7 separate regions of the Homo sapiens genome follow, and all the other regions are reported to be linked to region 3. The links are microRNA targets in miRTarBase. Many come from high-throughput screens and were not tested one by one. Region 3 holds a microRNA gene; each other region holds the end of a gene's coding sequence.
The links. Region 3 holds the annotated microRNA hsa-miR-4318 (CACUGUGGGUACAUGCU, at 3,233-3,249, opposite strand). A microRNA usually pairs through its seed, bases 2 to 8, with sites in the 3' UTR of a target mRNA and lowers its output. Matches are read on the target gene's strand: a 7mer-m8 pairs with bases 2 to 8, a 7mer-A1 pairs with bases 2 to 7 and ends in A, and an 8mer does both.

Region 1 (4,731 bases), not on the chromosome of region 3:
GGGGCCTGGCCCTCCCGGCACCTGCTGCTCTCAGGCCCCCTGCCCCAGCCTCGGGGCAGTTCCAGGAAGACTCCCCCCGGCCCAGCCCAGGGCTGCAGCCACAGCTGGTCCTCAGCCCTCCGCACATCTTTGCAGAGTTTGATGGGGCGCCGGGCGGATGACAGCGGGAACGGTTGTGATCACTGGCGGAATCCTAGCTACGGTGATCCTCCTCTGCATCATTGCCGTCCTGTGCTACTGCAGGCTCCAGGTCAGTCCCCGGGACCCGTAGCCAGAGGCTGCCAGGCCACCAGCAAACCTCTTTTTCATTATGGGGGCAGAAACTGGAGGCCGACTTCAGGGCCCACAGAGCCCAAAGCTATGGAATGTAGCAGGCGTAAGTCAAGGAGGATGGGAGTTGGGGCTGGTCGGAAGGGAGCTAAGTGCCCCCCAGCCTGCCCACTCAGAGCACACAGAAAGTGTGCTGGAAAGATACGGGGTCATTGGGTTGTGTCTCCTGCACCTCTGAGATTTCAGGAGCATGGGAAGAGCACCATTCTGGGGAGGCTCTGAAAGCTGCCGCCAGCAGCTCCAGCCCTGTCCTCAATATGATGTGTGTGTCCCTGCCCCGCTCAACTACAGCCTGGAGTTACTGCGAGGAGTGGTGGGAGGGGAAAAGGAAAGCAGTACTGGCCTTGCAAAGCTGGGATTAGAAACTTGTGGAGCAGGCCCCTGGGGTTCAGTGCCTGGCACTAGGTTCTCCATGGAGCAGGGGACAGGGGCACCTGTGCACGCTCAAAAATGCATGGGGCGGGGGGAGCATTCACCCTCTCAGGCATCCCTCTGCCCTTCCGCACAGTATTACTGCTGCAAGAAGAGCGGAACCGAGGTTGCAGACGAGGAGGAGGAGCGGGAGCACGACCTTCCCACGCATCCCAGAGGCCCCACCTGCAATGCCTGCAGCTCCCAAGCCCTGGACGGCAGAGGCAGCCTGGCGCCTCTCACCAGCGAGCCCTGCAGCCAGCCCTGTGGGGTGGCCGCGAGCCACTGCACTACCTGCTCCCCATACAGCTCCCCCTTTTACATACGGACGGCTGACATGGTGCCCAATGGGGGTGGAGGCGAGAGGCTCTCCTTTGCTCCCACATACTACAAAGAGGGGGGACCCCCATCCCTCAAATTGGCAGCACCCCAGAGTTACCCGGTGACCTGGCCAGGCTCTGGGCGTGAGGCCTTCACCAATCCAAGGGCTATTAGTACAGACGTGTAAATCCTTCCACCCCGACCCGCACACACACCCACACTGCTGCCCTGGCGGGGGCCATGGGGGTGATGAATGACCCTCCAACAGCCCCACATGGGTTGTTTCTGTTTCTTTGGCTTTTCTCGCTCCGCAGTGGAGGGTTTACTAGGATTTAAGCTTTTGAGTGCATTGAGAACCAAGACAGGGCCTGGCTCCAACTCTGTGGGCCAGAGGTGGGGGACTGCTAGGTCGAGTCTGCAGCTTCGCCAGTTTCTTGGTTGGGACACTCCTCTGGCAGCCCCAGCACCACCACAACCCCTTGCAGTGTGCCCCAGTCCCCTGGATTCGCTGGACTGCAAAAAGGAGCACCAGGGAAAGCTCAGCAAAGGCTCAGGAGGCCTCCCGGGTCCTCGGGAGATGAAGCATCCGTGCCTAGGAAAAGGGGACAGAGGGCAAGGAGAGAAGTGAGAGCTACAATTCCAGCATTGGAGAAGCGAGGGGCGGGGCGTCAACGGCACTGCTTCAGGACGCGCTTGCTGAAACGACTCCAACAGCTAGTTCACAGCCCAGCTTTGTACGTTGGTTACCATAGCTACTGCTGTCACTGTAGCTGCTCCCGTAGGGTCGTTGATTCCTGAACGTATCACATCTCACCTGCCCCCTTCCTCGTGGGACGTGTCAAGTTGACTTTAAAGCCTAAGGTGGCTTGTGGGGACTGCACCAGAAAGTGTCTAACCTTGTGTTCCCCGAAATCCTTTCTCTGACTTAGGAACCAGCGCCCCCTGCTGGAGAAGTTTTTTCATTTTGTTAGCCGACTTCTGGTAGCTTAGCAAAGAGACCAGCTGACTGTCTCTCGGCCCAGCCCACCACGCCGAGTAGCTTGTGTGGATGCAGTCCTGTGAGGGTGTGCATAACCGTTCCCAGGTGTACGCACGCGCGCGCGCGCGCACAGACACACACACACACACACACACACACACACACACACAGTAACCACGGGTAGGCACCAGGGGCTTTGTACATTCAGGAGCTGCAGAGAGGAAAGGTCTCCCATGTACCAGAGAAGGAAAAGTCTGATCCCGAAACAGCTTGAACGAAAGGTGGTTAACACGTGACCAATCCCCATGGCAGACAGCGGGCTGGTGAACAGGAAGAGCACAGAATCTCTGTGGGGCGATGCTGCAGCGGCTGAAACCACGTCAAGTCCCCCAGAGCCCGGCATTCTATGTAAGCATCCACCTGTGACGCCGTGGAGCAGGATCTTCATTCATCTCACCAGAGCAACAGCCCAGTCCTGAGGATGGGAGGGACGTGACTTAGCCTTGGGATTCCACGCTCGCCGCCCTCCCTTGGCCGCCCTACTCCCCAGTTTCCTGGCGATGAGCCATTTATTGTGTCTCACACCAGCCTCATTTCCAACTCCGACTTCCTACTTAGAATGTGGCAGTGGCTTTGTGAGTGAGAATCCTGATGAGTTTTCCAGTGGCCTCTGCAGAAGCTGGCCCCCTTCTAAGGGCATAGCTAACCCCCTTCCCACTCCTGAGTCACTGAATTCGAGGAGGGTGGGGCAGGGAAAGGGCTGGCCCCCCTGCTGAAATCTTGATTCTGCATTTGAGGAAGGTCAGGGTGCCGCTGGGGGAGCAGGGAGCGGGGAGGGAGGAAGAGGGGAATGCACATCTTTTGCGCCACTATTAAGGCACCTGTCACCTTACATCTCAATCTGGAATCAAAGTGCCCTGGGTTGAGAAGCAGACCTGGGCTCTGGTCACACTTTGGTCACTCATTAGCTCTAGGACCAGTCACTAATCTCTGAGACTCCATTTTCTCCAGGGAAACGAGGCTTGCCCAGATAGACTAACAACCCTTTAGTGCTCCAAGAAGTGAGAATTTCCGAAAAAGATCTGCCGGCCCAGAGCACTCCCTCTTGCCCTAATCCTGGCAGGGTCTGGATGTATTTACCCAACTCTGATCTTGCGTGCAGGGATGCTTGCTGATGGATGAAAGACCACAATAAAACAAGATTAGCAGCAAAACAATTTTAATTGTCAGTGAAAAGCAAACATGTTTGTCAGACTCTCCTGTGGAGTCATTTCAAATGGTAACTCTTCTCTTGTACCAGGAAGCAGCTGTAGGTGGGGTAATGGGATCTGTCTCCTGGTGCAGAGGGGCAGCTTATGGCGGCAGCAGCTTCAACAAGCCCGTCCCACGGCCAGCCCTAACTGGGCCAAGTGCAAGCTCCTGATGAGCTGCTGGGCCTGGCAGCGTTCCCCACTTCCTAGTGCCTTGCTCCCCTGGAATTCCACAGCCAATCAACCACAGCAGCCGTGTCCTCCTTGCCAGAAATAACATCATTCGTACGTCCTGCCTTTGTAAAAATCAAGACCCAGTTAACCATCACCCACTTCTTGCCCCTGATTGATGGGGTCCCTGAGTACAAGCGTCCTGTGCAATCCCCTCCCTCCTACCGCTTTCCTAGCTAAGCCCTGCTAGCCCCACAAATCAGAATCTGGGTTTGGGGTGCTGGAGAGATGGTGGGCCCCAGCTCTTCCCCACATAGCCCACGCTGCTCAGGGCACGGTCTCCAACCAGGCTCGAGATTGCCTGCCTGCCCGCTGCAGCCGCAGGGCCCCACCCTGTGGAAAAGGAAGCTTCCCCCACTCAACTGCACTGTCCTTTTCTGCTGTCTAGTCTGTGCTAAGGGACACTACTTGTACACTTTTCAAACGGTGCCCTAAATTGGAAGAGAAGGAGGGGCCAGGAACACAGCCCTCTCCGCCGTCTTTCTCCACCTCCACTTCACCACTCCTGCTCTAGACTTCTTGTCTTGCATCTTTGATAACTTGGAGTCATAACCGAGTGGATGTCGGAATAAATGAGAGATTTGAAGTAGAAATCCCACAGGGTCCTTCGTTCTTCACCGGGGGAAGTGAAGGGGGCTGTTGGTGTGGATTTAAGGGTGAAGCCTCCTCTTCAACACCCAGAGCGTCTGTGTTCCACGCTCTCCCTGCTCCCACGGTAGCAAACCTCCACCTTGTTGCCTGGCATGCCCCCATTGCCTCAGTCAGAGTTCAATCGGCGGAGATTTGCTGTTTGTTGGGAAAGTGGCTGAAGGGCCCTGCTGAGGATAGTGAGTTTCCCTGTGGGGCAACCCAGGCCTCGGCCCCTGCTACCTGCCCTTCCCCTCTTCCCAACCCTGCACACACACCTTCCAGGCTGGTGGTCTTCCTGCCTGTGTAGCTCAGGGTAAAATCACTTCTCTGAAGCCTGAGGAGATCATGTCACATGGCCAGCCCTTTGTTACAGGGGCAGCAAGGGAAGAGAGGGGAATTGGGACCAGATCCCCAGTGCAGCCCAGCAGAGACTACAGAAGTGGAGAGGGATGGAGGGGGACTGGAGAACTGGGAACTAGCTTTGTGTGTAGGAGGGAGAATTCGGGGATGAAGTGAGAACGTCTTTTGTGTGTGTGTGTGTGTGTGTGTGTGTGCCTGCACTTGTGCACATGGGTGTGT
Region 2 (3,000 bases), not on the chromosome of region 3:
TAAGGTTGTGCTGCGGTAGGTCTCTGAACTTGGGCAAGTACTTTGTTATCAGTTGATCTCTTAATCCCCATTTTGCAGAGGTCATGCAGTTAAACACAACAATCATCCTACTGTTGACATGTGAAATTCCCTGAATTCCCACTCGGTTAATAGCCTGAAGGGACTTCAAGGACACAGCCTGGTTTCTCTACCACAGGTATCTTATTTTCAGGAACTTGACACCTGCAATGAGTCCATGAGAAGTCCCTGCCACTGCCGAGTCCCACCACATCCAGTGGGCCTGCCTGAGACGCACGAGCCAGCGGCCTCCAGAATTCAAGTGTGGTTTCAGAAGTGGTGTAAATGAAATGGCACGTTTATCACTCATCTATCTTTTGATTGATTGATTTTATATAACAAGCAAATCAAACAGGACAAACTCAGATGGCCTGAGCTGTTTGGACCCACAGATCTCATCTGAGTGCAGCATGGGCTCCACAAGGCTGACCTCCATGACCTTGGTGTCCTGTCAAGACTTGCCCAGTGATACTGGAGCTGGGGTCCACAGCACCTCACCCATACTCATCCTCCATAACTGCAGGGAACCTTCTGTCATGCCTTCCAAGCTATGTCCTTCACAGCAATTCAGGTTTGGCAATTTTTTCTTTTCTTCGGCAGCAAGAATATTGTACCTTTTGTCTTCTAGACATGCGTCTGCCTGTGATGGTTAATACTGAGTGTCAACTTAATCAGATTGAAGGATACAAAGTATTGATCCTGGGTGTGTCTGTGAGGGTGTTGTCAAAGGAGATTAACATTTGAGTCACTGGGCTGGTAAAGGCAGACCCACCCTTAACCTGGGTGGGCACCATCTAATCAGCTGCCAGTGAGGCTACAATATAAGCAGGGAGAACAATGTGAAAAGGCGAGACGGGCCTAACCTCCCAGCCTACATCTTTCTCCTGTGCTGGATGCTTCCTGCCCTCAAATATCGGACTCCAAGTTCTTCAGTTTTGGGACTCGGAGTGGCTCTCCTTGCTGAAGCTTGCGATGGCCTACTGTGGGACCTTGTGATCATGTGAGTTAATACTTAATAAACTCCCCTTTATATATGTATCTATCTATTCCATTAGTTCTGTCCCTCTAGAGAACCCTAATACACTGCCTTTACTCTCAGATGAGTCTTTTGCCTTATTCACTATACCCCACCCCCAACTGTTTTAAAAAGCTCAAATTGTTTCTTGAAGAACTTGTGAGTACAAGGGCCGCAAGCCACTGTGGACCCCAAGCTGACTCCTGGAGAGTGGAGGTGGGGGAGCTGTTAGGGTTGTGCCCACTGGTGAAAAGATCCTTTAACAGCACTGACATGCATGGACTGGGCCCACTCCTCAACCTGCCACCCCCAGAGCCAGGCTCTGCTTTCCACGGCAGGAGTGGCTCCGGGTTCTGAATCTAGAGTTAAGGCCCAGCAGACGACACGGTGACCAGAACCTGCATATGCCTTGGCCTTGGTGATCTACCTCCTGAATCTGCACCTGGGCCACTGGCACCTTCCCAATTTCTTCTGGATGATGCAGTTACACCATAAGGTCCCCACACCATAAATCAGGCTTAAAGTTAAGTAATCATGTGAGTAATTTTTAGTAAAATTAAAAGCACTTGGAAGAGATACTTAGAATCAAAACAAGAAAATTCTAAAAAATATTTTAATACTTGAAAACTTCTAAAACAAAAGGTAAGGTAACATGTTCTTTCAAAAGTGAATTTCACATGCAAACCATTAATTATATTTATTTTACTGTGAGATAAAAGCAAAACATAACATTCGGAGAAAGAGACCAGTAACTGACCTATTTATTTTATATTATATTAATGTGAATCCTCATTAGAAATGTGATAACGTTATTGCACAAACAAAACCGTGGGCAGAAACATCCCAGCAATGCAGGGGCGCCCATACCGGGTTACAAGGGATGTCCAGCATGTGTTTCCCTGGAACACTCAGAGTCTGCACTTTTCCTGCAAATGGGACCATGTCTGATTATTTATTATGAAAGAACACTTTACCGACCATTTTTTTCTCAGTTGGTATAATGTAGAAATAGGCTTTTTTACATCCATTAAATAGTCTTGAAAACATTTTTGCACTAAATCAAACGAGCTGATATCAGAAAGCAATTGCCACCTTCCACCTGGAGTAATGTGTGCATTTTTAATGCTATGATTATATGCTTCTTTAGGGTGACACAGTTTCTCTTCTGGCTTCTATAACACCTGCATTAATCTTCCTTTTTTGCTGTTAAACAAAACTTGCTGGCATTATGCATCCCATCCACTGGGGGTGGGCTGGGAACAAACAGGTTTCGATGGTTCTTCACAAGGAGACAAACAATCTGAATTATCTTTTACAAACAGTGAAAATGACAAGATGTTTGTCTCTCAGTATGCATTTTAAAACAACATAAATAGAATACACTTCTTTTAACAAAGCCTGGCCTTGGTGGCTTTCTAGCTTGCAGTCTAAGTAACGTTTGGTTTGCAGAAGGGATTCCCTGGGAGACGGCTGTGTGGGGCAACCTCACTTACTGGTTGTGTGTTCTCCATGGGAAAAGCACCAGATGGGGAAGCCCAGGATCAGATGTAAGCTGCAAGCTTCTTTCTCTCTTCAAACTGCTTGTCCACTGCCAGAGACAGGGCCTGGAGGAACCCCTCTATGGTGACGGTGGGGGCCTAGAAGGTACACGGTCATTGCTGGAGGGGCTCAACTCACGTTTGGTGGGGCCATCTGGCATCCACAGCCCCTGCCGCCACCCACAGTGCAGATAGCACAGAAGGGGGTGGTAGCTGATAAGGTGAGCAGTGAGTGCGCACCACACACGTCCAGGACGCACATCAGCCAAGCTCTTTACTTCAGAAAAGGCGAACAAGGTGGCTACGTGACCCCCGCCCCCGCCATGTCCTGAATGTCAGAAACAGCTGCGGGGGTGGGCAGGGGAGCACCAAGGCAGCCACCCACACACT
Region 3 (4,731 bases):
TCATTTAATAACCCCAGAGTTACTCAAGAAGAGGTCAGGGGAGCATTAGTACAGCTGTCTGCTCCTCCTGAGCCTGGAGTTGTGATGCCCAATAGCAACGCTTCTTCTCCTGGCTGAACCCAGGATTGACCATGTCCAGAGCTGAGTTAGCTGTTTGGGCACAAGTGGCTGATTAGTAAGGGGAAAGCAAGCACTTTGGGAAAGGCCTAACTGGGCAGGCACACAGATGCATATGGAAGAAGTCAGAGGAAGAGGCAGCTCCATTTGGAAACACCCCCACCAGGATGCAGATGTTCCAGCAGCTTGCTGGGCAGCAGGCCTGGCAGGAAGCTGCTCTGGCTCTGACCCCAAAACCCCCTTCTCACCCTTTCACTCTTTTCACTCTGCCCTCCTCCCTCCCTCCCCCACTGCCTTCCTCTCTCCAGGCTCTTTCCCCCCACCCCCACCTTCTCTTCCCTTTGCAGCACTTCCCACTCCCTCTGTCCCTCATACTCTGTCTTGTCCCTTTCTCTCCCTGACATTTGTGAGGACAGTCTCCCTCCCTCTCTTCCTCTCTCTCTCTTCCACTTCCTCCATGTCTAGCCATTCTGGTACTGAGTAGTTCATCTGGAAATAATAGCCAATGTGGCAATGTCTTAGTGTCTTGGGCTTTTTCTTCTGGCCAAAACCAGAGAGTGCAGACACAAGCAAAATGTGCTCAAGAGGAGAGGAGGAAGAGAAGAATCTTATCTAAGGACACGTTCCATTTTTATATTCCCTCCATATGACAGATGGATTGAAAAACAGAAAGATAATCTGTCCATTAAGCATCCAGAACTCACAGGGCACAGACATGAAATGATTTGCTTTTTCTCCAATCCCTGTTTTCAAACAGGTCCTGTTAAATTCCCTTTTCCATCCTTAATGATGACCTACGCACATCTCATTGCTGTCTAATCACTTCCAAATACTAAAAAGTACAAATGAATGGAGGCTTACTTAGAACTCCATGGTATATCCAATATAAGTGTCATTTCCTCCCCTCCCCAGCATTGGCCAGGCCATGGCTCAAAGGACAAAGAGATGAGAGAGGGAGCTCTGTTACTCTTAGGATACCTCCTACTCCCCCACTCTTTAGTATGTTATGACAAAAAAGGGTAGATACCAAGATGGAAAGTGACAAATATCTTTTACAGATATGGTACTGGGGTGGTTCTTCCTTGAATTCACTTACCATTACTGTCTGCTGGCTTCTAAACCTCAGCTTACTTGCTCTCCCATGATGGGCATGTTGGAGTCTTGGAAGACTACCCACAGGGGCTACCCCTGCACATTTCCCTAAGATGGGAGATTCAGCTCCACCTCCACCTCTCAAAGCCTCTCATCACCCTCTCTACCTCTGCAGTGGAGGTTTCTTCCCCAGGCAGCTAACTTGATGGTGGACCAGACAGTGGCAGGTGCTGTAGATAAAAGAGTATACGTGCTGCAGGTACAACCCAATGTCTACATCTTGAAATACTCCCTGGCTGAGACATCCAGGACTCTGTGTGTTCTGGTCCCTCACTAGCTAGCTCTGTATGTCAGTTGATCTTTGAAGTATGGCAGAGCTGAATTCAAATTCTAGTTCACAACATGCTCATTGAGTGACTTTGAACCAGCTATCACCCTCTTTTGCACCCCAGTTGCTTCATCTGCAAAATGAGGGTAATAATATCATCCATCCAGTGCTGCTAAATATGATCACACTTAGGCATAGGGCTGGCACAAAATCAATATTCAGTAAGTGATAAGCACATTATCTTACCTCTTGCAGTCTAATTTTCCCCATATTTAAAATAAAAATGAGGTGGTGAGTTCCCAAGTTCCTTCTCAGCTTTTAATTTTAGGGAGAGTGTACACATTTTTCTCCTCTATTGAGGTATTAGCTATGTCTATGCAGGACGGGACACAAATCTCCTTCCATGCCTGCCCAAATGTGCATCCTGAGCTGAGAGGCTAGGGGACTCAGCTATGAAACACTCATTCCCTTTATGGATCAGTTAATATCACTCAGGGCTTGGGCTACACACCCAAGCTGGACCTCTCACTAAGCCTAAAAAGTAAGCTCAATTCAGTATTGTCCACACCCAGTGCTAGAGATGGGATACCCAGAAGACACATCACCAAAAGGATCAGGACTTCCATCTGTGTATCTGGAAAACAATAATTTCTTACTGTGATATTTTTGTTTCTTAAAGTCACAAACCACACATTAACCACACAAGCCATATCTAGGAGATCAAGAATTGCAATATCGCTCTCCTACCACATTTGGGGGAATTGAAGAATTAAAAAAAAGAACTGCTTTTGCTCAAGGTCACACTGTCTGGAATCAAAACTCTCTTTGTCCTGAACTTAGTCTCCTGGCCAAATTGCCTCTGAAACACTTTCTCCCTCTCCTGGGCCATCCCTCAGTCTCTGCTAGGAACAAGGACAGGAGATCTAAGATCTCGAAGATGCTTCTAACTTTGTTCTTTTTCCAAGATTTTCAGACTCTGGGAGCCACTGAGACTCCTGGAGGGAAGAGCAGAGCTTTGCAAATTTGGAATGACTTTAGTTCAAAGCATTCTCCACTCTCCCTGTGTTCCCAGTGAAGACAAAACCCAAGAACCCTGGGATACCAAAAAGACCTCAAGATTATGTTGGTATTTCCTGAAAACTCACAGAGAACAGGGCCATGCAAAGGACATGTCAACAGCTTTTTTGATGACTTCAGTATAAGTGAACCAGAAAAAGATGGATTAAGTTTCCCTTCAAATACACATGTGCTGGAGAGTTGCAGCTGAGAAAATGCTTAGAGCCATGCATTTCCAAGGGCTGGTCAACTCCAAACAGAGTGGGATGTTTTGCTGAGTCCCAAACACTGACTTCTCTTCCCGTCCCTAAAAATAACTGAGCTGTCCAGCTGTTGGATGGATATTTTCTCCTTTGGTTTTTGTTTCATTTGATTTTCTCACAAAGTATCAGGGCGATAAACAACTTCAAAACCTGGTAGAATGTTCTGGGGGAATTAGGCATTCAGAAAAGTAAAAAGTAAAAATAAAAATCTGCCACAATCTCACATCATTGCCCTCACCAGGCATTCTGTCCTTTGAACATTACCTGTCATTACTTACCCATCTGTCAATGTCAACCCCAAGATCTGTTTCCTTTGGGATTATTTTGATCCTCATGAATATAGAAATCAATCATTGAAACAAGTTTTTGAGCACCTAGCATGTACCCACAGTGACTGTCTAAGACAAGGCCCTTGTCCACAGTGGGTTTATGACATAATTAAGAAGCTCCTACAAACTCATGAAGGAATTAAGAGGTAATAACAGATGGTACAGGTAGGTAAGAAGGTATGATACAAGAATAGGGGCTTTAGGCCTTCAGAGAATAGAGAAGGCACTGTGTGTATCAAAGAAAGTTGGAAATCATAATAACCAACATCCACTAACTGCTGCGTTTTGGGGACTTTCACAGATGTTTTCTCTGGACCTCCACAAAAGCCCTTTAACACAGACAGGGTATTGGTCATACAGATGGGAAATAGAGACTTGGAAATATTAAGTGTCTTATTCAAGGTCATTAGTAAGTGGTGGAGCAGGTGTAGAGACAGACTAAAGGCTTATAACCCAGGCACCTGTGCCTTAACGCCACACCAGTTTTCGAAACAGTTTGTTAAAATTTGATAGATAGATAACTATGGCCTTATACTGCAGATGATTGGAATCTGTGAGATTTCTGAATATATCCAAAGTTGACTTGCGCACCCCCACCTCTCCATTTTGCTAATGAATTACACCCATCTGGAATTTTCTCGTCCTTTCTCCTATTCCTAAAGATTCAGCACAAGCTTGTACTTGGATTTCCCCAGCCTAAAATGTTTTCTCCTTCTTTGGAATAAATAGGACTTAACGACTGTATCTCTCACATGTCAACTAATTATGTACTGGGAGTCACATCACTTCTGTTTTCTTGTACTTTTACTTAAAGTATCTTAGGTTATTATTTAGCACATCTATGTCTCATCTTCTGCAGAGATTAGCTGCTCTCTGAGGAGAGTTTTTATGCCTGATACATGGTCCCAACTGTTTTGAGAGTGGTCCAATGCTATGCTTAGTGAATATGTGTTGATAGGAGTGAAGATCTCCACCCTATGCTGAGTCCTGCATCGGCAGGCCCCGCTCCCATCTTGTTGTAGAACTCTGCATCTGCATGTTCTACATACTTCTCAAGCTCCTTGTGTTGAAAATGTTACCATCTTCCTCTAAAACTAGCTTCTCATCCAGAGGTTTCTCTTGCTGCCAGAAGCAATATAATTCTCCCAGTCAGGCTCCAAAGGTGATCATCAGTTTTGATCTTGATGCCCTAGGGTACTGTTGATTGTTCATTGAAGTTTCTTATAAATAAAAGGTGCCCTACCTTGTGCTGGATGATCTGGCAGAGATCAAAGGAAGAGCAAATTCCTAGGAGAGCTCCCAAGCAAAGAAAGGACAAGAAACACAGGGAACAAATTAGACAACAATGCAGGCTTTTGTGTGATCAGTTCACACTGCCAATGCCATACTTCAGAAGCAGGGAAGATGAGCTTGTGTTGAATTAGCCCACAGATGCTTCCTGGGAAAGTATTTGAGTAATCCCTGGAGGCAGGGAGGACTGAGTTGAGAGAAGGAGAAGGGGAAGCCTCTGGGGGCAGCCCTGTGGGGAGAAATAAGAAGATAAATG
Region 4 (3,000 bases), not on the chromosome of region 3:
CAAGTAGATAAAATCAGATTCACATTAGTGAAAAATCTCTACAAAATGTCTTTGAAAAGCAAAACGAGACTGCCTCTTAACAATTCGTATCCTCATGAAAGACGTGGGCTGTAAAAATAAAGCAGTGTGTTTAGCACAAACTAGAAGATATCTGCATCATTTTTTTCACAGTTATTTCCATCTACAGTCTGAAAGAGGTAGATTTTTCTGCAACACCTGAGAATTGAATTGTGATAACCAGGTGTAATAAAGGCAGTTGCATACATAACTGAAAAATACTGGTCTCAAGACCAAGAAATGTACTCCTAACAAGTCTGAGGATGAAATGGTCCATATTACCCAAGACCCAAGTTTTCTCTACACCTTGGAGTCCACCGCCAATATAAATAATACACATCACGATTCCATGATGGTGCAACAATTGCAATTTAAGTGAATTCAACATTTAAACCTTTTCTGGGCCAGCCTAGTAGCATTACAGTGTTCTAGAATATGGTAGATACGGGGTGCGCTACAAAGCCACAACACTGGGCTGGTGAGGTGATCACTGTAGGAAGATGTCCTTCTCAGGGGGTCCCATTTGTTTTTATTCACAGGGTAATGGGAGGAAGGGTTCTGAAAGGACAACAAATGCATCCCAGACAGAATCCATATCCTTTCAACACTATAATAGCATCTAGCTAAAAATACAAAGTAAGCCAAAAGCAGCAGGCCAAGTACTGTTAATCACATTGCTTTAAAGCCCTTGGAAGTATGCAACAGGCCCAAGATTTACAATCTTCCACACAGGACAAGCACCACAAAGAAACGTGGTGGGCTACACAAATGGCTTAATAAAATGTTAAGAGCTGTACATCCAGCAGAGTTCTTGTGAAATAATGTGATCATTAGTACTAATTTTAAGGTGGATTATATTTCTGATCTATACCTGCATTCCCCCCCACCACCAGGGAAATGAGTCTAGTATTTTAGTAGCAGAACAGGGTGTACTCCTAAGAGGCTGTTGGAGGGTGGTGTTTTTTGCTTCTGACTCATTTTGATGGTAATTAGATAATCTACTTTGTGGATTTATTTTCCTCCACTGTGGCCCCTTGAATTAACATGACTGATAGTGGAGGCTTAGATACAACCCTCCTCCACTCCAGGCGGTTTCCTATCTATCTATCTGTTGGACAATTTTCAATTCTTTCAACCCAGTTTCGACCATGAATGTGACAGGACTTTACAAATAACACTTGTAACAAAGAGAAAACCCTTTTAACTGGACAAAACAGAGTTTATTCAGTCCAGTAAGCAATTTAACAAGTGTCAGTCTGATAGTTTTGCTCAGTGGAATGTGCTAACATCAGTTCTAGTAGAACCTTTTATTTCATAAAGCATTTCAATGCAAATTATACCAGGGACAAAGTCAAAACTTCCATCAGTGCAGCCTGATTAATCATCTGCATAACTGCGCCACATTCAACATTGAAACAAAGAACTAATTCAAAAGTTATGTGCTTAATTTCAAATTTTCCCCCAGTCCAAGTGTAGAGACCTTGATAATACTGTGGCTTTTCTTTTTTCTTCTTAAAAAAGAGATGGTAACTAAGAAGGGGGTGAGAAAACAGACTGAACACGTAAGTAACAGATCATGACTAACACTCTGCCAAGTCTTCCCAAAGTAAAAATGTTGGTGCCAGTGTTTGTTTTGGAAATGAAAATCAATTTCGGTTGGTACTGATCCATAATGAAAATTCCCTTTTGAAAAACCTGGAGTACTTTGCTGGTGGAATTTTTGTAGTAACTTTCAAGTAGCCAGAAGGTATTGGAGAAACTTCTGCCTAGTGAAAGTGACACGTGAATTGACCGTCCTTGTCTTTGACAAGGGACTTCATTGAACGGCAAACATGAACACCAGTTTTCAAAGAATAAGTGGCCTTCTATGGGAAGTGGAGAATATGTACTGAAATCCCAAATCAGAATCAAACACAAACCGCCATCCTCTACGGGAGCCCCTCATGGTCCAAATCCCACACCTGAAACCAAAGCAGGATGACTGTTCAGTCACGTAAACACTAAGCTTATTTGTCTAGTGATTTGCCTCTATGTACTATTTTGTCCACAAGTGACATCTTTATATACATATTCTGCCGAAACTTAGGATTCTAGGCATGTGGCCATCTCAATTTGTCCCGAGATATAAATGTTTTCAAAAAGCTAATTTCAATCAAATATGCTTCTGACCCAACACTAGGAGTTTTATTTTTACTTGGCATTTAAATGGGTTATTAGACAAAACTAATCGCCTTGGTATTTTGTTTTTCTGAATAATATTATGGGGGGGGGGGCTAAGACGTTTAAATTAATATTGTTTTCACATCAAGGAACCATCGTCAGAACAAAGTTCCCTTGTAATGGTCGGCCCTGTCAGTGAAATTTTCATTAGGATGATAATGTGCAAGGAGCAGGGAGAGAAAGGACAAGGCAATGAACACATGCATTCCAGTGGAGGGAGAACGAGGCTGATGTGCAACACAGCTGAGGAAAATTTATAGATTAAACTATTCAAAACTGCTAAGCAGCCTCCTGTACCACATAAGTCCAGTAGTTCTAAGAAAATACAGATATGGTAGAAAAAGTAAGAAAATTTTCACCACAAAACCAATAGTTAACTACTAACAGAGAAAGTTATACACAAAATATATCTCTCAATACAGTGATCACACCTCATCTTAGTCAACCGACTCGATGGCCGGAGCAGAGCCTGTGGACGGGGGCTTTTGCACAGCGCTTCTCTGACTCTTGGGCTCAGCCTCCAGGTGCGCTCCCAGGGCTCTTTTCGAGGAAGTGTTCAGCTCCTTGTGAGAATCCAGGGCAGTACAGGGCTGCATCACAGGTGTTGCTAAATCCCTGTTCGCCGCTTTGATGGCCGCTTTGATGGATACCTGCTCTTTCAGGACTTCCACCTTCTCATTGAGCTCATTCCTTTCTGTCTGAAGAGCCCTGCACAGCTTCTCT
Region 5 (4,731 bases), not on the chromosome of region 3:
GCCACTGCACTCCAGCCTGGGTGACACAGGGAGACTCCATCTCAAACAGGCAAACAAACAAACCCTGCCTCATAGGTTGCAGATAGGCATTACCAATGATGTGCATGTGCTGGTACCTGCTGGCTCTGCGTCCCTTAGTGGAACCCTCAAGGCTCAAGAAGTTTCTAGCCTGTGCTGGGATGTGATTGTTGGTACCATGTTGCAAGTACCAGAAATGTGAGGATTTGAGGGAGAAATCTGTTCTGACTTAGTCTATCTAGCTTGGCCAGGAGATGCGCTATGCAGATGATGTGTTCTGATCCTGTATCTCCCAGTCATGCAGGGCATCCAGGATCACTTTTCTTCTTCATCTCCCCACCTGGCCGGGCATCCTCCCTGAGGCATCTGAATTTGATTCCTGTCCCTCCCAGGTGTCTGTTCTTTCTAACCCCTGTCCCTGCCTTCTCCAGAGGTTCAAAACTCTGGACTCTGTTGTGTGCTCTCTTGGGTCAAGGCTGTTAGTCTTGCCTTCCCTTCATAGCCAGCCCCTGCCTGGTCCTCGCTTCATCGGGGCAGAGATAGGAATGTTGGAAAGAAGGTGCTTCCCAGGTTCTAATTTCTCAATTAGAGGATGCTAATGGTCATTCCAATTATAGGCATGATCTCTTTCCTTATGCTGTTGATGTTGTGCTTTATTTTGGCTTTTGCTCAAAGGAGGATTCTGGAGCCGAGAAGGAGAACACCTCTGTCCTGCAGCAGAACCCCTCCTTGTCGGGTAGCCGGAATGGGGAGGAGAACATCATCGATAACCCTTATCTGCGGCCGGTGAAGAAGCCCAAGATCCGCAGGAAGAAGTGAGTTGGAGGCTGGGGTCCAGAGAGCCTTCACTGTCCCACCGAGGTGGTCTTCTCTGCTTCTTGGAAGAGTCTCCTCAGTGGGGCGGAGCCTTGGGGAAAGCCACTCTGGTGAGAGGGAATAGTCTCCCTTTTCCTGTCCTTACTTGGCTCCCGTACATAGCTCTTGTTCCTTAGTGGTTGAGTGTCCTGCAGTCTAGGGACCAACCCTCACAGCACTGGAGCAGTTTTCCCCTAGAAGGAGAGCAGACAGGGCCCACACCAGGAGGCTCCATGGTTCCTCTTCTTTCTAGGTCCCTCTCCTGAGCTGAGAAGGAAACCTGGCTTGTACAGGGGCGCAGATTCCACCCTCCCGGGGAGTTAAAGCCACTCAAGGGAAGAAGAGGGTGACCTCCTCATGGCCAAGCCGAGGCTGCAGGGTGTGATCGGACATGATTTTCATGGCAAACCGTCTTATTAAGATGACCTATTTTCACTGGATGTTTGGGTTGAGGAAGATATGAACAGAATAATGAGAATTTTTTTTTTTATTTTGAGATGGAGTCTTACTCTATCACCCAGGCTGGAATGCAGTGGTGTGATCTCAGCTCACTGCAGTCTCAGCAACCCTGGGTCCAAGTGATTCTCCTGCCTTGGCCTCCCGAGTAGCTGGGACTAGAGGCAAGCGCCACCATGCTGGCTAATTTTTGTATTTTGAGTAGAGATAGGGTTTCGCCATGTTGGCCAGGCTGGTCTTGAACTCCTGACCTCAAGTGATCCACCCGCATTGGCCTCCCAAAGAGTTGCGATTACAGGTGTGAGCCACCACGCCCAGCTAATTTTTGTATTTTTAATAGAGATAAGGTTTCGCCATGTTGGCCAGGCTGGTCTTGAACTCCTGACCTCAAGTGATAACCCGCCTCGGCCTCCCAAAGTGCTGAGATTACAGGCGTGAGCCACCGCACCCCACCAGAGACTTTCTTAATCAATCAGGCTATGTGGTGGGGCATAGCAGCAGCCAGTGACTTCGTTCATTATCACAGGATTTGATTCCTTTGAAACTCAAGAGACCAGGGAAAGTGACAGGAAGGAAAGGGCTCTTTGCTGCTGTGCTTATTACAAGGAAGACTGTTTGTCCAGCGTGTATTTCAGGATATCTGGATCCCTTTTATTGACTCACAATTTGTGGCACCACTTTCTCATCCCAGAACTTCATTCTTATTTCTCTCCTCATCTGGCCTCCCAAGTGCTCCGTTGAGCTGATGAAAAGTTCTTTGTACTCCCTCAACGTGTCGGAAACAGGAGGCCACACAGCACAGCTTTGTTTGGGGTGGGCAGGAGTCAGGAGTCTTGAGCAGATGCATCACTGTGAAGAAGAACGACATGTCGGGGCTGCACCTGTCCTCCCGTCGGCATTTGACGAAAGCTCCCTGAAGCGGGGCAGCACTCTCCTCCTGAGAGATTTACCATTTATTGCCCCTGTGAGGAATGTGTGCTTGGGAACTGCCAAGTCTTACCCCTTCTGGAAGAAGAGGTTTTCTCTGACAAGAGCCTAGAGCGTCGGCTCTATTATGCTGGGACTTGACAGAGGAGCCATGGGGTTTAAACAGTAGGAAAGAGGGGCTACGCGCAGTGGCTCACGCCTGTAATCCCAGCACTTCGGGAGGCGAAGGCAGGTGGATCACTTGAGGTCAGGAGTTCGAGACCAGCCTGGCCAACATAGTGAAACCCCGTCTCTACTAAAAATACAAAAATTAGCCGGGTGTGGTTACTCATGCCTGTAATCCCAGCTACTCGGGAGGCTGAGGCAGGAGAATCACTTGAACCTGGGAGGCGGAGGTTGCAGTGAGCCGAGATCGTGCCACTGCACTCCAGCCTGGGTGACAGAGCGAGACTCCATTTCAAAAAAATAAAAAAAGGATAAAGTAAACAATAGGAAAGGATTTGGTGGGGTGAGGGTGGGGTGTTGAGGGCTGGGCCTCATCTTGTATTCTGAAAGCTGAGAAACGGCTGGTCAGCTGGAAGGCTGGTGGATGGGCAGGAGTGAGCCAAGCTGAGGCGTTCTGCAAGAAGCAGGTCTGAGTCTGTCCAACCAATTTGTATCCTGTGGGGAGAACAACTTCATTCTTAACATACCCTACAAACCAGAAAACAAGTTTTTAAGGAAGATGCTGGGCATGCTGATAGCTTTTCTGGTCTCCTAAGGAAGAGTTTTTAAAACTAAATCCAAGGAAGAAAAATGTAACAACACGTGGAAGTGAACACTGGATGAATAAGCTTGTTTCCCAAATTAGAATCCTAACGTCCATATTTAGCTTCATGTATTCCCCTTTGGCTTCCACAGTTCAACTCCTTTTATTTTGAGACAGGGTCTCGCTGTGTCGCCCCAGCTGGAGTATAGTGGCACTACCTCGGCTCACTGCAACCTCCACTCCCCGGGTTCAAGCAATTCTCAGAGTAGCTGGGATTACAGATGCCCGCCACCACATCTGGCTAATTTTTTTTTTTTTTTTTTAGTAGACACGGGATTTTGCTATGTTGCCCAGGCTGGTCTTGAACTCCTGGCCTCAAGTGATCCACCCGCCTTGGCCTTCCAAAGTGTTGAGATTACAGGCGTGAGCCACGGTGCCCAGCCCATCTCTTAGTCTTCCATTCCCTTGGTGAATTTGGAAACTTGAAAAACTTGGGGACTTGACAGCAGGCTCCATGTTCTTCTGGCCTCACTGTACTGTGTAAGGAAAGAGCTGCTTGTCAGGAACGGAAGAGGGGACGCTAGTAAAAAAAAAAAAATTGGATTCCCCAACTGGACTAAATAGGAGTTTTTCAGGTTTGTAGTAACGTGAAACTCTCCTAGATCGAAGCAGTTAGACTGGCCTATGTGGCCTTCTCAGGGTTTGTGATTCAGTTCTTAGCGATTCTTGGCCTGATAAGTTTATGAACACAGCCCCACATTCAAGCCGTGGCCAATCCCAGCTGTTCTCACTGCTCTTGGGAGGTGTTGTCCCAGTCAGTGTTTCTGCAGCTTCCATTTGTTGTTGTTATCCAGTGTAAGCACCTGTTGAATGCAGATGTGCTGAGTTAGAGGTGGGATTTGGAAAAGGGCTGCTATTTCTGCTGTTGAGATTTCAGAGGCTATACTCTTTTTTTTTCTTTTCTTTTTTTTTTTTTTTTGAGACGGCATCTCACTCTTATCGCCCAGGCTGGAGTGCAATGGCGTGATCTCGGCTCACTGCAACCTCCACCTCCTGGGTTCAAGGGATTCTCCTGCCTCAGCCTCCTGAGTAGCTGGGATTACAGGCACCTACCACAATTCTCGGCTAATTTTTTTTGTATTTTTGGTAGAGACGGGGTTTCACCAGGTTGGCCAGGGTGGTCTCGAACACCTGACCTCAGATGATCCACCCACCTCGGCCTCCCAGTGTGGGTGGGATTACAGGCATGAGCCACCGCGCCTGGCCTCAGAGGCTATACTCTTATAATTTTGTTCTGAGGGGAGACAGGGAAAGGGTTAGACAACTTGAAACATTGACCCTGTATAAAAATGCAAAATTCTCAATGTGTATTTATAAATTTCTATTTTTTATAACTTTATGGGACTTCTTAGAGGCCAAAAGTAGTAAACATGCAGATTAAAAATGTTTATGAAAATCTCAATAAAAATTCATAATAAAAACTTTGTAAATAAATAGAACTGTAAGCTTTGAACTTAATTTGTGTTCAAAAGTTAACAGCAATGTGGACAAATAAGTCAGGCTTAGCCCTTGTGTTGGCCTAAGCACACCTGGGAACTTAGTAAAACTTTTATTTTGGAAATTTTCAAATACAAAATTAGAGAGCAAAATATATGAACCCCTGTATATGCCTCATCAAGCTTCCACACTTGTCAGTAGCTTGTTGATTCTGTTTCATCTGTTTCTCC
Region 6 (4,731 bases), not on the chromosome of region 3:
CAGTGGCAGGCACCTGTAATCCCAGCTACTTAGGAGGCTGAGGCAGGAGAATCGCTTGAACCCAAGCGGCAGAGGTTGCAGTGAGCCAAGATCACGCCACTGCATTCCAGCCTGGGCAACAGAGTGAGACTCCATCTCAAAAAATAAATAAATAAATAATACACTTGTGGACTGGCGCAGTGCCTCATGCCTGTAATCCCAGTACTTTGGAAGGCCGAGACAGGTGGATCACCTGAGGTTGGGAGTTCAAGACCAGCCTGGCCAACATGCCGAACCCCAATATCTACTCAAAATACAAAAATTAGCCAGGCATAGTGGCAGGTGCCTGTAATCCCAGCTACTTGGGAGGCTGAGGCAGGAGAATCGCTTGAACCCAGGAGGTGGAGGTTGCAGTGAGCTGAGATCGTGCCATTGCATTCCAGCCTGGGCAACAAGAGCGAAACTCCGTCTCAAAAAAAAATACACTTGTGTTAAGTAGAGCAAAATTCTTGCTTTGCATAGCTGATTGCGATGGCAGAAAACCATTCTCCCTCACGATGGGAGAAAGGGGTCTGTCCTAAAGGGATTCTGAGGTCATGGTTTCTCTGTTCAATCCCAGAGCAGAAAGGGGACTGTGTCAGCAAATGAAAAATGTGCTTTTGTCTTCCTTTGTTTTTCAAAAGGTGCACTCAGCTAAACACAAAAGTGGCCAAACTCACCAACGAGCTCAAAGAGGAGCAGGAAATGAACAAGTGTTTGCGAGCCAACCAAGTCCTCCTGCAGAACAAGCTAAAAGAGGAGGAGAGGGTGCTGAAGGAGACCTGTGACCAAAAAGATCTGCAGATCACCGAGATCCAGGAGCAGCTGCGTGACGTCATGTTCTACCTGGAGACACAGCAGAAGATCAACCATCTGCCTGCCGAGACCCGGCAGGAAATCCAGGAGGGACAGATCAACATCGCCATGGCCTCGGCCTCGAGCCCTGCCTCTTCGGGGGGCAGTGGGAAGTTGCCCTCCAGGAAGGGCCGCAGCAAGAGGGGCAAGTGACCTTCAGAGCAACAGACATCCCTGAGACTGTTCTCCCTGACACTGTGAGAGTGTGCTGGGACCTTCAGCTAAATGTGAGGGTGGGCCCTAATAAGTACAAGTGAGGATCAAGCCACAGTTGTTTGGCTCTTTCATTTGCTAGTGTGTGATGTAGTGAATGTAAAGGGTGCTGACTGGAGAGCTGATAGAAAGGCGCTGCGTTCGAAAAGGTCTTAAGAGTTCACTAACCTCACATTCTAATGACCATTTTGCCTTCCTGCTTGGTAGAAGCCCCAACTCTGCTGTGCATTTTTCCATTGTATTTATGGAGTTGGCGTATTTGACATTCAGTTCTGGGGTAGGTTTAAGATGTTAAGTTATTTCTTGTAACCTCAAAGGTAAGGTTATCTAGCACTAAAGCACCAAACCTCTCTGAGGGCATAACAGCTGCTTTAAAGAGAGGTTTCCATTGGCTATTAAGGAGTTATGAAAACTCCCTAGCAATAGTGTCATATCATTATCATCTCCCCCTTCCTCTGGGGAGTGGAAGAATTGCTTGAATGTTATCTGAAAAGAGGCCTGGTAGTAAACCAGGCCCTGGCTCTTTACCAGCAGTCATCTCTTCTTGCTCTGGGGCCAGCCAGGAAAAACAAACAACCCGGGGCACATTGGGTAGACTCAGTGTAGGAAAAATGGTGGCAGCTCCACTGTTTATTTTTGGTGACTTCGTACATCATTATGAACCGCAATTAAGGAGGAGGCTTAATGGCTGTTCCCAAACTCAAATCTCAGAGTGGGTATCCTAGCATCTAGCAAGACTGAGTGGGGAGATTTCTCATCCGTGTGAAAATGTAGAGTGAGGCCTCTGACTAGCTAATTGTGTATTTTGTTGGGTTTAGTATTTTCTAAATGTTTACAAAATATTGGGCTGCATGTTCAGGTTGCAGCTAGAGGGAGCTTGGGCAGATTTTCAATTACGCTTTCAAGATATAACCAAAAGCTGTTTCTAAATCCTAAAATTAGAATTTCAACAGAGCCCCCTTTAGAACAGTCATATAACGCTTGTGTGGGCCAACAGAGGGGCTGTGTACTCTCTCTGGAACCATAAATGTCAAATAATTTATAACCTGCAGTAATTGAGCAAACTTAAAATAAGACCTGTGTTGGAATTTAGTTTCTTGAAGAGGTAGAGGGATAGGTTAGTAAGATGTATTGTTAAACAACAGGTTTTAGTTTTTGCTTTATAATTAGCCACAGGTTTTCAAATGATCACATTTCAGAATAGGTTTTTAGCCTGTAATTAGGCCTCATCCCCTTTGACCTAAATGTCTTACATGTTACTTGTTAGCACATCAACTGTATCACTAATCACCATCTGTTTTTGTGGGATGTGCTGCAGCATTTCCCAAAAAACTTTACGTGTAATGTTGCAAAATGAATGTACTCAGACATTCTTAATTTTTACTTAGGGCAGACCAACTCTTTGAGTCTCTCTTGGACTTATATATACAGATATCTTAAGAGTGGGAATGTAAAGCATAACCTAATTCTCTTTCCTATAGAGATTCTATTTTATTTAAAATCTATTTTTACACTAGTTAGAATCCTGCTGTTTTGGCCAAGTACTTGTCTTGCATGTCTGACCTTGCAGAAGCTGGGGTGGATCATAGCATACTAATGAAGAGAATTAGAAGTAGTTTACAAAGCTCGCTCACTCCTCATTTCTCTGTGATCCCTTCTATCCAGTGGCCCCACCACCACCTGGGAAAACAGATTTTTCAGTACAGGTGGGATAAATGCTCTGAAAGGCTGTGCCCAGAGGAATGAGCAAATAGGCAAGTGTTTCCAAACTACTTGGAGGTTTACAAAAAATATGTCCCAGAAAAAAAAAAAATCTTACCAAGATACGTAAAGAAAAAAAAATTTTTTTTTAAACAGTCAAAGAGTCATGTTTGAATTTCACAAAATCACATCAGACAGAAGTTGTTTTCTTCAGGAGGGAAATGAACCACTTAATATACCCATACTACCTTGAACAATGAAATTGAATTAAAATAGCCAAACTTTGAAATTATTCTGCCCCGTGTGAAATGTGTGTCTCTGACTGACATTTGCTTGGGAGCATGTCTCTAATAATCTAAGAAAGTGTCGGCTGGGCACAGTGGCTCAGCGCCTGTAATCCCAGCACTTTGGGAGGCTGAGACGGGCGGATCATGAGGTCAGGAGATCGAGACCATCCTGGCTAACATGGTGAAACTCCGTCCCCACTAAAAATACAAAAAAAAAAATTAGCTGGGCATGGTGGCAGGCACCTGTAGTTCCAGCTACTTGGGAGGCTGAGGCAGGAGAATGGCATGAACCCGGGAGGCAGAGCTTGCAGTGAGCCGAGATTGCACCACTGCACTTCAGCCTGGGTGACAGAGCGAGACTCCATCTCAAAAAAAAAAAAAAAAAAAAAAAGTGGCCTTGATTTAAAAAGCAACGTAAAAATCAGCCCCTTGGTTGGGTGCGGTGGCTCACATCTGTAATCCCACCACTTTGGGAGGCTGAGGTGGGAGGAATGCTTGAGGTCAGGAGTTCAAGACCAGCCTGGGCAACATGGCCAGACCCAATCTCTACCAAAAAAAATAATAATAATAAAAGTTTTTGATTAGCCGGGCATGGTCTTGCACACCTGTAGTCCCAGCTATTTGGGAGGCTGAGGTGGGAGGATCGCTTGAACCCAGGAGTTCGAGACTGCAGTGAGCTGTGATTATACCACTGTACTCCAGCCTGGGCAACAGACCTTGTCTCAAAAAAAAAAAAAAAAAAAAACCCTCAACAATATAGTGAGCATCTAGATTATTCATCTTTCCACTCCCTTCTTCCAGGTTCCCAAACTAGTGAAAAGTAGCTGAACTGGGCAAGGGAAGTCCTAGGCACACAACTCTTGCAAACTAAAAGCACATTTTTTTATTTTTTATTTTTTTTGAGACAGTCTTGTTCTGTCTCCCAGGCTGGAGTGCAGTGGCTCCACCTTGGCTCACTGCAACCTCCACCCGCTGGGTTCAAGCGATTCTCCTGCCTCAGCCTCCCGAGTAGCTGCGCTTATAGCATGTGCCACCATGCCCAGCTAATTTTTTGTATTTTTAGTAGAGATGGGGTTTTGTCATGTTGGCGAGGCTGGTCTCGAACTCTTGACCTCAAGTGATCCACCCGCCTCAGCCTCCCAAAGTGCTGGGATTACAGTTGTGAGTCACCGCACCCAGCCACTAAAAGCAATTTTTACACCTGAGACTATTTCCCACTAAGCTGAGATTGTTTTGGTGGGGGGGTTTGTTCTTGGTGGGAAACCGTCATAAATGTGACTTGCTAGAATATATTGATCAATATATAAACACTGAAGCAACTACCCACTCTCTGCTTGCATGGCAAAGTTGTCCTCCTCAAAAGGGCTGAGAAACTGATTTCCACAGCCAGCTAGTAGAGTGTGGAGAACTTGGCAAATCACGAATGAACAACCTTCTGTCATCGTTTAGAAACCCCTCTCCTAGTACAGTCAGGCTCCACAAGCTACAAATACCATCCATGAGATTTGGCTGCCATGCATGATGCCACGTTGCTTGGGCTGGTGGCATATTTTGGCTTGTGCGATGCCATGGGCTTATCTAAAAAAGGAAAAAGTCACTCTTATTTTCTCCAGGATAAAGCTGAATTAACTGCTGCATAGTGACTCTGCTGCATCAC
Region 7 (4,203 bases), not on the chromosome of region 3:
AGTGCAGTGGCATGATCTTGGCTCACTGCAGCCCTCACTCCTGGGTTCAAGCGATTCTCCTGCCTCAGCCTCCTAAGTAGCTGGGATTACAGGCACACGCCACCACGCCCAGCTAATTTTTGTATTTTTAGTAGAGACGGGGTTTCACCATATTGGCCAGGCTGGTTTCGAACTGCTGACCTGGTGGTCCGCCTGCCTCGGCCTCCCAGAGTGCTGGGATTACAGGCGTAAGCCACCACGCCTGGCCAAGAAAATCAAGATTTACCTGGTTTATGTGTTGACCAGCTATACACAGAGAATTCTAGATTTTTTTCTAAAAATTATTATCAAACCCCCAATTTCACCAGTAGAAAAAGAGATCTTAAGATTTCTGTGTTTTTTTTTCCAGCATAACTCAGTTACTTATGGCTGGGAGAAAATATGTAGGGAGATAATCTAATACCTAATTCGAAGGAAGAAAATATCTAATTCTAAGTCTTGAGTTCTTCTCATCAGACCATAGCAGGATTTAACATTTAACATTTTTCAGAAGCTTCTAATAGACTTCATTCAGTTTTTTGTCCACAGCAGTGGCATTTAAATTACTGTACTTTAAGACATGGAATTGCTGGAGGCTTGGAAACTTGAGTGCAATTTCCCTAGTACGACCTCCAAGGAGAATAGAGCAAAACAGTGGTAGGAAAAACTCTCAAAATTTTACCCAATTGTATGTTTTCTACATTGTCAGTATCTAGTTTTATATAGTTAATATGTACTTCTAAAATTTCTGACAGTGTTTGGTGTATAAAACAGACCAAGCTCAAGATGTAAAGAAGATTGAGAAATTCCACAGTCAACTAATGCGACTTATGGTAGCCAAGGAAGCCCGCAATGTTACCATGGAAACTGAGTGAATGGTTTGAAATGAAGACTTTGTCGTGTACTTAGGAAGTAAATATCTTTTGAATTAGAGAAAGTGTTGGGACAGAAAGTACTTTATGTAACTAAGTGGGCTGTTCAGAAGCTTAGAGGTCATTTTTTGTAATTTTCTTTTTAATTACTTTAGAGAGCTAGGGATGCAAATGTTTTCAGTTAGAAAGCCTTTATTTACTTTTGGAAATTGAACAAGAAATGCATCTGTCTTAGAAACTGGAGATTATTTGATGTTAGGTAAAACATGTAATTGTTTCTCTGGCAAATTTGTATCAGTAATTTGAAAATGAGATATTAGGAAAAACCAATTCTTCTTAAATTTAGTTCATCTTTCTTTAAAAGAACATTAAATGTAACCATTTTGTCAGATCCATGTATTTTGGAGCATAAAATGTATGCTGTTGTGACCAATAAATATAAAATATGGTAATTGGAATTAACTCCACACCATAGTATGCATTGTTATACATACTGTGTACCTAATTATGTATAGCAGTGTAGTCTCAATTATATCTGAAAGTAATTGTGACTAACAAGTATGCTTTGCCTTATTTCCACATTTAAACTACCTGTTAATATAAGGGATTTGTAGTATCAGCTTGTTGAGCAATGACTTTGAATCTAGTTTTCAGTGATCAGAAGCAGCAGTTATTTGAGTGTATGAATGGAATGATGATCACTGTGCTATAATGTACTGAAACCACCATATTACAGAAATATTTACTACATATTTTCCATCTGTAGTTTCTCAGAAGGGCTATGGATTAGTTTGAACTGTCAAATCCTTGCATACTTCTGTGACACCCCTGCCCATTTTCTGTCTTTAATTAACCAAGGTGTTAGGTGTGACTGTCACAACTGTTATGTTTTCCAGTAAACTAGAAGTACGATATTTGATAATTATATTTGTATTTCACCACCTAAATGTAATGTTGATTCCTCAAGAATGAAATGAAGGCACTACATTGAAATATGTTTTGTATAAATTTGTCATGTTGAACAGCATTTTAGCATGGTAAGTTCCCTTAGCTATATGAATTTTGGCATGTTTCAGAGAGATCAGTAAATAAAATATTAGATAAAATATATATTGTTTGTGTTGAAGTTTTTAACTTTTCAGAAATTGTTGATTTCTGAGCTGGGATATACTATATTCATTTAGTCCAAAATGAGCCTAGTAATGCTGAAAGCAAATTTTTTGTTTCTCAGTACTTTATATTATATGACTTTCTCTGCACTATATGTTAATAGCAAGTTTGTTTTCTTGAATTAGAAAAGTAACATCAAATAGTATAGGATTATTTTGGCTTTTTGTTTTTTTTTCCCCCAGAATTAATGGGATCACCATCAGGGGAGGGGAGAGGCTTGACCTTTTTCCCCCTTATTTAACACTACAGAGATGACCTGAAAAGGAGAGACTGGCATTTGGGTTCTTTGAGTCCTGGTAGCGTGTAACAGAGTGGTTAAGAACAGACATTCCAAGTCAGACTGCCTGGCTTTAAATCCTGGCTCCACTATTTCCTAACTCTGTGGTCTTAGACTAGATACTTTTCTAAGCCTTCATTTTCATCTCTGGAAATGGGGCCAACAATAGTACTTTGCTTGTAAGACTGTTAAGATTAAACATCATGATCCAAGGCTGGGCACAGTGGCTCATGCCTGTAATCCCAGCACTTTGCGAGGCTGAGGTGGGCGGTTCATTTGAGGCCAGGAGTTTGAAACCAGCCTGGCCAACAAGGTGAAACCCCATCTCTGCTACAAATACAAAAATGAGCTGGACACAGTGGCACACTGTTGGGGTGATCAGGCCCAACACCAGGCCATGGGGGCTACAAAGTCCAGCAGGGTCAAAGGAATGAGAAAAGACGAGTGCATAAAGTGGGCCAGGCACGGTAGCTCACGCCCGTAATCCCAGCGCTTTGGGAGGCCGAGGCGGGCGGATCACAAGGTCAGGAGGTTGAGACCATCCTAACACCGTGAAACCCCGTCTCTACTAAAAATACGAAAAAAATTAGTTGGGTGTGGTGGCGGGCGCCTGTAGACCCAGCTACTTGGGAGGCTGAGGCAGGAGAATGGTGTGAACCCGGGAGGCAGAGCTTGCAGTGAGCAGAGATCGCACCACTGCACTCCAGCCTGGGTGACAGAGTAAGACTGGGCCTCAAAAAAAAAAAAGTGCATAAAGTGGGTCCAGAGGGCCAGTGCCAGATTGGAGGCTGTGAAGGCCCCAAGCTCTGGGAGCCCACACTATTTATTGGTGATCAAACAAAGAAGCAGGTGGTAAGGACGTGAGGGTAAACAGGTGAGGGCGTGAGGATGTGGGGTAGAAAGGTAGTGGTACATAAGCGTAGCTGTGATGGTTTAGCATTTCGTTTGATGTATATAGAATATGCTCTGCTGCTTGAGTTAATGGAGGACATGTTTACAAGTAAGAAGCAAGGAACCAAGTCTGTGCACATTCCAGAGGCTACAAGGGGTCTTAGGCCCTGAGCCCTGGGTTCCATCCAAGCCACAAGGGGTTCTATGCCCTGGGCTTAGATTGTGGTGCGGCAGGGCAGCCTTCCACCCTTTGGCACAGAGCTTGGTGTTCCAAAGGCCACGAGGGGTTTTAGAACCTGGACCCCGGACATCTTTCAAGACTTACATTATGACAGACAAGCCAGTCCTGCCTCAGCTCTTCTACCAACATGTCTCCCTTTCCTTGTTTGCAAAACCGCCATAGTTATCATTGCTTGTTCTTGGCGGTGGCTTTCTCTCCAGAGGCAGCTTCCACATCTGCAGGCTGTATAAAGACAAACAACACAGATTAAAAGCACAATCATTATTGAAATCACAGAGCCTCCAAGTGTCTTGATCGATTTTAGCAGGTTAATAGCTGCTAATCCATCTGCAGCTCCTTCAAGCACTTCACTTCCTGGCATTAGTGTCAGATGTGCCTGAGAGGCTTGAAATACTTGTTCCTTCAGTTTTGCAATATCCAAAGATAAATTTCCAGTATGACCTTTTTGTTTGTTTGTTTGTTTTTTGAGGCGGAGTCTCGCTCTGTCGCCCAGGCTGGAGTGCAGTGGCGCGATCTCGGCTCACTGCAAGCTCCGCCTCCTGGGTTCACGCCATTCTCCTGCCTCAGCCTTCTGAGTAGCTGGGACTACAGGCGCCCGCCACCACGCCCGGCTAATTTTTTGTATTTTTTGTAGAGGCGGGGTTTCACTGTGTTAGCCAGGATGGTCTCGATCTCCTGACCTCGTGATCCGCCCACCTCGGCCTCCCAAAGTGCTGGGATTACAGGTGTGAGCC

Region 1: the mRNA of FAM163A is a reported target of hsa-miR-4318. Seed matches in the 3' UTR shown: 7mer-A1 at 2,208-2,214.
Region 2: the mRNA of TRIP13 is a reported target of hsa-miR-4318. Seed matches in the 3' UTR shown: 7mer-A1 at 1,776-1,782.
Region 4: the mRNA of TXLNG is a reported target of hsa-miR-4318. Seed matches in the 3' UTR shown: 8mer at 1,546-1,553 and 7mer-m8 at 1,081-1,087.
Region 5: the mRNA of TAF8 is a reported target of hsa-miR-4318. Seed matches in the 3' UTR shown: 7mer-m8 at 3,151-3,157.
Region 6: the mRNA of BRAP is a reported target of hsa-miR-4318. Seed matches in the 3' UTR shown: 7mer-m8 at 1,139-1,145.
Region 7: miRTarBase lists SRP9 as a target of hsa-miR-4318. The part of its 3' UTR that is shown has no 7-base or 8-base seed match.

The regions. Positions count from the first base shown.
Region 1 is chr1:179,812,941-179,817,671 of GRCh38, forward strand. It overlaps FAM163A (family with sequence similarity 163 member A), which reads left to right. Exons shown (of 5, transcript NM_173509.3): 4 at 136-250; 5 at 839-3,258. The coding sequence starts at 158. The coding sequence ends at 1,249. It overlaps LOC105371634 (a long non-coding RNA gene), which reads right to left. Exons shown (of 5, transcript XR_007066756.1): 3 at 4,428-4,731; 4 at 1,959-3,587; 5 at 1,355-1,654. Among named protein-coding and RNA genes, the nearest start is that of MIR12116, 11 kb to the left of the region's middle. RefSeq lists a silencer at 154-379.
Region 2 is chr5:916,717-919,716 of GRCh38, reverse strand. It overlaps TRIP13 (thyroid hormone receptor interactor 13), which reads right to left. Exons shown (of 13, transcript NM_004237.4): 13 at 1,597-2,709. The coding sequence ends at 2,614. Among named protein-coding and RNA genes, the nearest start is that of TRIP13, 25 kb to the right of the region's middle. RefSeq lists enhancers at 1-393, 394-937, 2,354-2,923.
Region 3 is chr18:37,655,707-37,660,437 of GRCh38, reverse strand. It overlaps MIR4318 (microRNA 4318), which reads right to left and starts at 3,303; the gene lies at 3,223-3,303.
Region 4 is chrX:16,841,481-16,844,480 of GRCh38, reverse strand. TXLNG (taxilin gamma) reads right to left here. Exons shown (of 10, transcript NM_018360.3): 10 at 1-3,000. The coding sequence ends at 2,715. It overlaps RBBP7 (RB binding protein 7, chromatin remodeling factor), which reads left to right. Exons shown (of 12, transcript NM_002893.4): 12 at 1-140. Among named protein-coding and RNA genes, the nearest start is that of RBBP7, 27 kb to the left of the region's middle.
Region 5 is chr6:42,076,407-42,081,137 of GRCh38, forward strand. It overlaps TAF8 (TATA-box binding protein associated factor 8), which reads left to right. Exons shown (of 9, transcript NM_138572.3): 8 at 694-833; 9 at 1,127-4,731. The coding sequence ends at 1,139. Among named protein-coding and RNA genes, the nearest start is that of TAF8, 28 kb to the left of the region's middle.
Region 6 is chr12:111,640,494-111,645,224 of GRCh38, reverse strand. It overlaps BRAP (BRCA1 associated protein), which reads left to right. Exons shown (of 12, transcript NM_006768.5): 12 at 663-3,079. The coding sequence ends at 1,026. Among named protein-coding and RNA genes, the nearest start is that of BRAP, 43 kb to the left of the region's middle.
Region 7 is chr1:225,788,467-225,792,669 of GRCh38, forward strand. It overlaps SRP9 (signal recognition particle 9), which reads left to right. Exons shown (of 3, transcript NM_003133.6): 3 at 774-1,998. The coding sequence ends at 893. Among named protein-coding and RNA genes, the nearest start is that of SRP9, 13 kb to the left of the region's middle.